Regions from separate parts of the Homo sapiens genome. Here region 2 is linked to region 1. The links come from fine-mapping of genetic effects on gene expression. A gene starts in region 1. The other region holds a variant in brackets. All regions are shown on one strand. Distances are between the middles of the regions. Region 1 holds the start of COTL1 (coactosin like F-actin binding protein 1). Region 2 overlaps COTL1 (coactosin like F-actin binding protein 1).

Region 1 (2,500 bases):
GTTGTCCGAAAGCTTGCTTCCAACTAAAGACCAGAGATGGGAGGGAGTCGCATTCTCCAATCTCTTTAAAAGGTCCCATTACCAACATCACAGAGCCTCTGCCACTACCGAAGGGTTTATGGCGATGCCTGCCACGTGGTCTTTCTTTTCATGGTTCACAAGCCACAGGGAAGTGCCTAAGGCACACAAATCTTAAGTATACAGTCTGATGATTTTTCACGCGGGTACACACCTGCATAACCCCCTCCCAGATCAACAAATGTCTACAGAGACATTTTCAGCTCCCAGCAGTCCGGGTGGTGTGCCCCTCCCCATCAGTGGCTATCTAGCCCCAAAAGCTAATCTCGATTCTGACATTCACACCATAGATTAGTTTCGCCTTGTCTAGGATTTCTAAATGGAATCATATGGTGTGTACTCTTTTGCATCTGATTCTACTCGTCAAATTAAAAATCACATAAAATCAGCACACGGGCAGACAATGATAGCGGGAGAAAGGAGGGCGCGGCTGAGTTTCTTTCCCTTCCAAGCAGCCCCCTAGCCTGTTCGTATTTGGGCTCAGTGACTGATCAAAGGGGACAGTGGGAAGAGCTGGATGGACACTGGAGTTTGGAAACACAGGAGTTGACCTTAGAAAACCAGTGGACCGCAGGGGGCAAAAGAGCTGCCCCGCCTGGAGAAGGCATTGTAGGATGGCGGAGGCAGGTGGGTCACTTCTGTTGCTTCGGATGTCCAGAGGGGAGAAGGTTTTATGAGGCCTTAAAACGCTCACACCGGGTTCCTCCCACGCCATGCGCCAGGGGCACCCCATGTGGCCACCGGTTCCTCCCGGGTTCGCTCTGGCCGGGGCTCCCCGGGTGCAGACAACCTCCCAACGACCGCGCATCCGCCCGGCAGGCGCGCCTCCCTACCTGTGCACTGCTGGATGAAGTGCTGGTACTCCGCTCCCTGCTCGCCGGGGACGATGGTGGAGCCGTCATATTTAAAAGTCACCCTTTGGGTTGGGAGAAGAAAAAAACACACACACACATCAGCGCTGGTGGCCGCGCGACGCGGCGCTTGCAGAGGACAATCTAACAGACGCGCTGGCCACGGAGAAGCCCGCGGGGGCCTGGCACGCCGTCCCGGAATAAGGCGAGGAAGACAGCGCGGGAGGCCCGAATCCGTCCCGCCTGGAGGCCGGCTCGGTGCACGAGGCCCCGCGCGAGCCCGGGGAGCGGGGCGTGGAGACGAATGAAAAGTTCCTACCAGATGACGGCCGAGCCGTCGTCGCGCACCAGGTTGTACGCCGCCCGGCAAGCCTCTTTGTCGATCTTGGTGGCCATCGCCGCGGAGCCGCAGCGGGACACTGTCCGGGGCGGCCGAGCGCGCCCCTGGCCGGCGGCGGGGATGGGAGCGCGGCGGGTACGCGCCGAGGGCGCACGGGCTGGCGGCGGTGGCGACGGCTACGCGGCGCCTGCAAGCTGCGAGCGCGGCGGCGGCTTCCACTGCGGACGGAGAGCGCGCGGGGACCCCAGGCCGTGGCCCGCCCCGCCCCCCCGCGCCCATTGGCCGCCCAGGCGGCGGCCCGCCTCTTCATTGGCCGTCGGGCTGCGGGGGCGGAGCGTCTTGATTCTCTGGCGGCCAATCCCAGACCGGAAGGCTTGCGCAACTCCGCGGTGGGGGCTGGAGTAGGGGCTTTGCCTCCTCCCTCTCACTCTCCCTCCTCCCTCCCGCTCTCTTCTCCCCCAACATCCCTCTTCTCTCTCCTTCTCCTTCTCACTTCCCCTCCTCCCCTCCCGACCCCTCCCTGGAAACTCCCACTACCCCAACCCCCTTTCCCACCCCGCCTTCCTCCTCTCCCTCCTCCTTCCTCTTCTTCCCCCACTGCTTGCTTCCCCCACTTCCCTGACCTCTTCCCCCTCCCTTCCCTCCCCCTCTTTCTCCCTTCCCCCTTTATTCTTCTTCCTCTCTCCTCCTCCCTCTTCTTGCCTATCCCAGCCCAAAACTTCTCCATCCTCCCTATTTCCTTCTCCCCAAGCTCTCCTCTTTCCTCCTCCTTGACCCCCTCCCCTGCTGCCCCCGGCTTCGCCTCCCTCTTCTCCACTTACCCTCCTGGCATCTCCTCCCTCCCTGTCCCCTACTCCCTCCTCCTATTCCCCCTCTCCCCCTTCCTCATTCTCCCCACCCCCCTGCCCCTGAGGCTGCAGGGCTGCAGAGCTCCACAGGGGACCTCCACGTGGATGATGTAATGCGTCAAACCCAAGGAGACAGGCTGGCCACTGTCCCTACCCCAGCGTTTGGTTCCATGGATTCTAGGTGGGGAGGAACTGGAAAGAATGAAGCATTTTAAATAGGAGGGGGTAGAAAGTGGACTGCTTCCAAAACGCTGGTGGGCTCGCGTTTACTCTGGATTCTGGTCATTTGCATTCCTATCTTAACCTCTCCCTTTGGGCTCCTCTGAAAGCACGAGCTGACTCATTCTGTCTTCCTCATTCCTTCACTGACTCATTCATTCATT
Region 2 (3,007 bases), 45 kb before region 1:
CACCTTCCAAATAAAGTGTCTACATCTCCATCCAATCATCCCCCTGGGATCGGCTCCCCGCTGTCACCTCACCGGCAGACTGGTCATGCACGGGCCCATTGCCTGGACGTCACGTGGACACATGGGTGAGACGGTGAGACGGGCCTGTGACCAACAGTGGTCAGTTCCCTTGCAGCCAGAGCTGGACCCCAGCCTGCTCCTGAGTGGACACCGAGCCGCTCCCACCTTCTATAGGGCCAGCAGCAACTCTGCAGGGGCCCAGGTGGTCAGGCCGCATGGAGGGGGTACTAGCAGGCCTCCATCCTACACGGGGTGCTCCCAAGCCCCCAGAGGCTTACAAAGGTGAGCCAGCACCTTCCATTCAGGGCGTGGACTCCACAGAATGTCCCCAAAATGTCTAACCTGAGCCTCAGCCTAAAAACCAACTGACAACAACCTCCACACCTCTCCACCTCCACGCCTTCCAGCGGCTCCCATGAGATAAGGGAGTTGCAAGCACCACTGGGGAGTGGGCTTCATTGCATGTTTTCAAAACGAGGCAGAAGCTGAGCAAAACAGCTCTGGGCAGACAGACTCTGACTTGGGAGCAATGCCTGAAACTGGAGGGAGCCTGCGTGGAGCAGCTGAAGTCTGCCTTGCACCTGAGGCTGGAAACCAGAGGGAACATATGCATGCAAAGCGTGGCCACCCCTACACCACACACACCTCAAGACACAGCACTTGCCAGCACCCACATGCCACCAACACCCACGGGGGCAGGGGCAGGTGGCAAGACTCAGGAGGCAAGTCCTTCATCAGAAGGAGACTTCCAGGGCCTAGAGCAATGCGGACACACACAGAATGTTAATTTCTCTTTTTTTGAAACACAGTCTCACTCTGTCACCCAAGCTGGCGTGCAGTGGTGCGATCTCGGCTCACTGCAGGCTCAACCTCCTAGGTTCAAGCGATCCTCCCACCTCCGCCTTCCTAATAGCTAGAAATACAGGCACAAGCCACCACGTCCAGCTGATTTTTGTATTTTTCTGTAGAGACGTGGTTTCGTCATGTTGCCCAGGCTGGTCTCCAACTCCTGGGCTCAAGCGATCCACCCATCTTGGCCTCCCAAAGGCCAGAATTTTGAATTTTCTTTCTTTCCTTTTTTTTCTTAGACAGGTCTCACTCTGTCACCCACGCTGCCAGGCTGGAGGGCACTGGTGCAATCTCAGCTCACTGCAACCTCCACCGCCTGTGCTCAAGCAATCCTACCACCTCAGCCACCGAAGTAGCCGGGACTACAGGTACACACCACCATGCCCGACTAATTTTTTTTTTTTTGGTAGATAATGGGGTTTTACCATGTTGCCCAGGCTGGTCTCAAACTCCTGAGATGAAGTGATCCACTGACCTCGGCCTCCCAAAGTGCTAGAATTACAGGCGTGAGCCACTTTGCCTGGCCGGGAATTTTCAATTTGCTACTAGCCACATTGAAAAATGTAAGAAAGAAACCAGTGCCATTTATTTTAATAGTATTTTATCTAATCCAATATATGCAAAATATTGTCATTTCCACAATGTAATCAATGCTAAAAGGTACTGACGAGGTCCTTTACATTCATTTCTTTTGAACCCAGCCTTAGAAACGCTGTGTGCCCTCCGGGTATACGGCACACACTGATATGGCTGGGTGCGCTTTCAGGCGCTCAGTGGCCACACGTGGCCAGCAACAGCGCAGGTCTAGACAGAACA[C/T]GAAAGCGTCTGAAAGAATAATGTGATCAGGCAAACAGAATCATGAATCGCAGAGCATTAGAGCCCATCCGACAGGGGTGGACATCTGCGCCATGTCCAGATCTGGGTGGTGGCTTCAAAGGTATGCATCATGAACATTCAAAATACACAAAACTTGGGCCAGATGCAGTGGCTCATGCCCAGCACTTTGGGAGGCCGAGGTGAGTGGATCACCTGAGGTCAGCAGTTCAAGGCCAGCCTGGCCAACATGGTGAAACCCCATCTCTACTAAAAATACAAAGAATTAGCTGGGTGTGAGAGGCGGGAGAATCGCTTGAACCGGGGAGGCGGAAGTTGCAGTGAGCTTAGATCGCACCATTGCACTCCAGCCTGGGTGACAAGAGCGAAACTCTGTCTCAAAAAAAAAAAAATATATATATATACATACACACACACACACACACACACACACTCAACGAGTAGTATTCCGAAGATCTCTGCGTTTTACTCTATGTAAATTGTGTTTCAGCTGAACAAAATAGTGAAGGGAGGTGGGGCGCTGTGGCTCACGCCGGTAATCCCAAGCACTTTGGGAGGTCGAGAAGGGAGAATCGCTTGAACCCCGGAGTTCCAAGACTAGCCTGGGGAACAGTGGGACCCTTTCTCTACAAATAATAATAATAATAATAGTAATAAATAGCCAACAGTGGTGGTGTGCGCCTGTTGTCCCAGCTACTTGGGAGGCTGAGGCAGGAAGATCACTTGAGCCTGGGAGGTCGAGGCTGCCGTGAGCCATGATCGCACCACTGCACTCCACCCTTGAGACCTGCCATTCACCTCTTCATTATGTAGAGGACCAGCAACAACCCAGAGAGGGGACGCAGTTCATCCCAGGGGACACAGCAACTTCCCGGCAGGGCCCTGGGGATGCGTTCCTGGTGCCAGCCCCACTTTCTCCCCACATCCCGCCTCCAGGGGCTGCTCTAGACTGCCAAGCCCTCGAGGCAGCTGCCACAACCTGCCAGAGACTGCACAGCAACATGTGTCAGTCTGGGGGCACCGTCACCTGTGGCTGAAGAAAGCTCTTTGTTTTGTCTGGGAACTCGGTGTCGCTCTCTCATAGCTGCCAGACGGGGGACTTCTCTTTTCTTGCCAAAGCAGGATTTTCTTCCAAGGGCCTCATCCGACGAAGTCTCACTCCAAGCGGCTGAAGCTGCTTGAATGGTTTGGAATTATGCAACCAGCAAGTGGAAGACCAGTTTTTTTGTTTTTGTTTTTTCTGAGACGGACTCTCACTCTGTTG

The links. PIP is the estimated chance that this variant, and not a neighbour inherited with it, causes the effect.
Region 2: its variant is fine-mapped to the expression of COTL1 in thyroid (GTEx, PIP above 0.99). The same link has a PIP of 0.9 or more in tibial artery.

Annotation. Positions count from the first base shown.
Region 1 is chr16:84,616,590-84,619,089 of GRCh38, forward strand. COTL1 (coactosin like F-actin binding protein 1) reads right to left here and starts at 1,489. Exons shown (of 4, transcript NM_021149.5): 1 at 1,249-1,489; 2 at 912-994. The coding sequence starts at 1,325. RefSeq lists silencers at 1,318-1,367, 1,388-1,747.
Region 2 is chr16:84,571,619-84,574,625 of GRCh38, forward strand. All of the region lies in intron 3 of COTL1 (coactosin like F-actin binding protein 1), which reads right to left. Among named protein-coding and RNA genes, the nearest start is that of COTL1, 45 kb to the right of the region's middle. RefSeq lists an enhancer at 705-1,237. The variant C/T (reference allele first, on the strand shown) is at 1,726.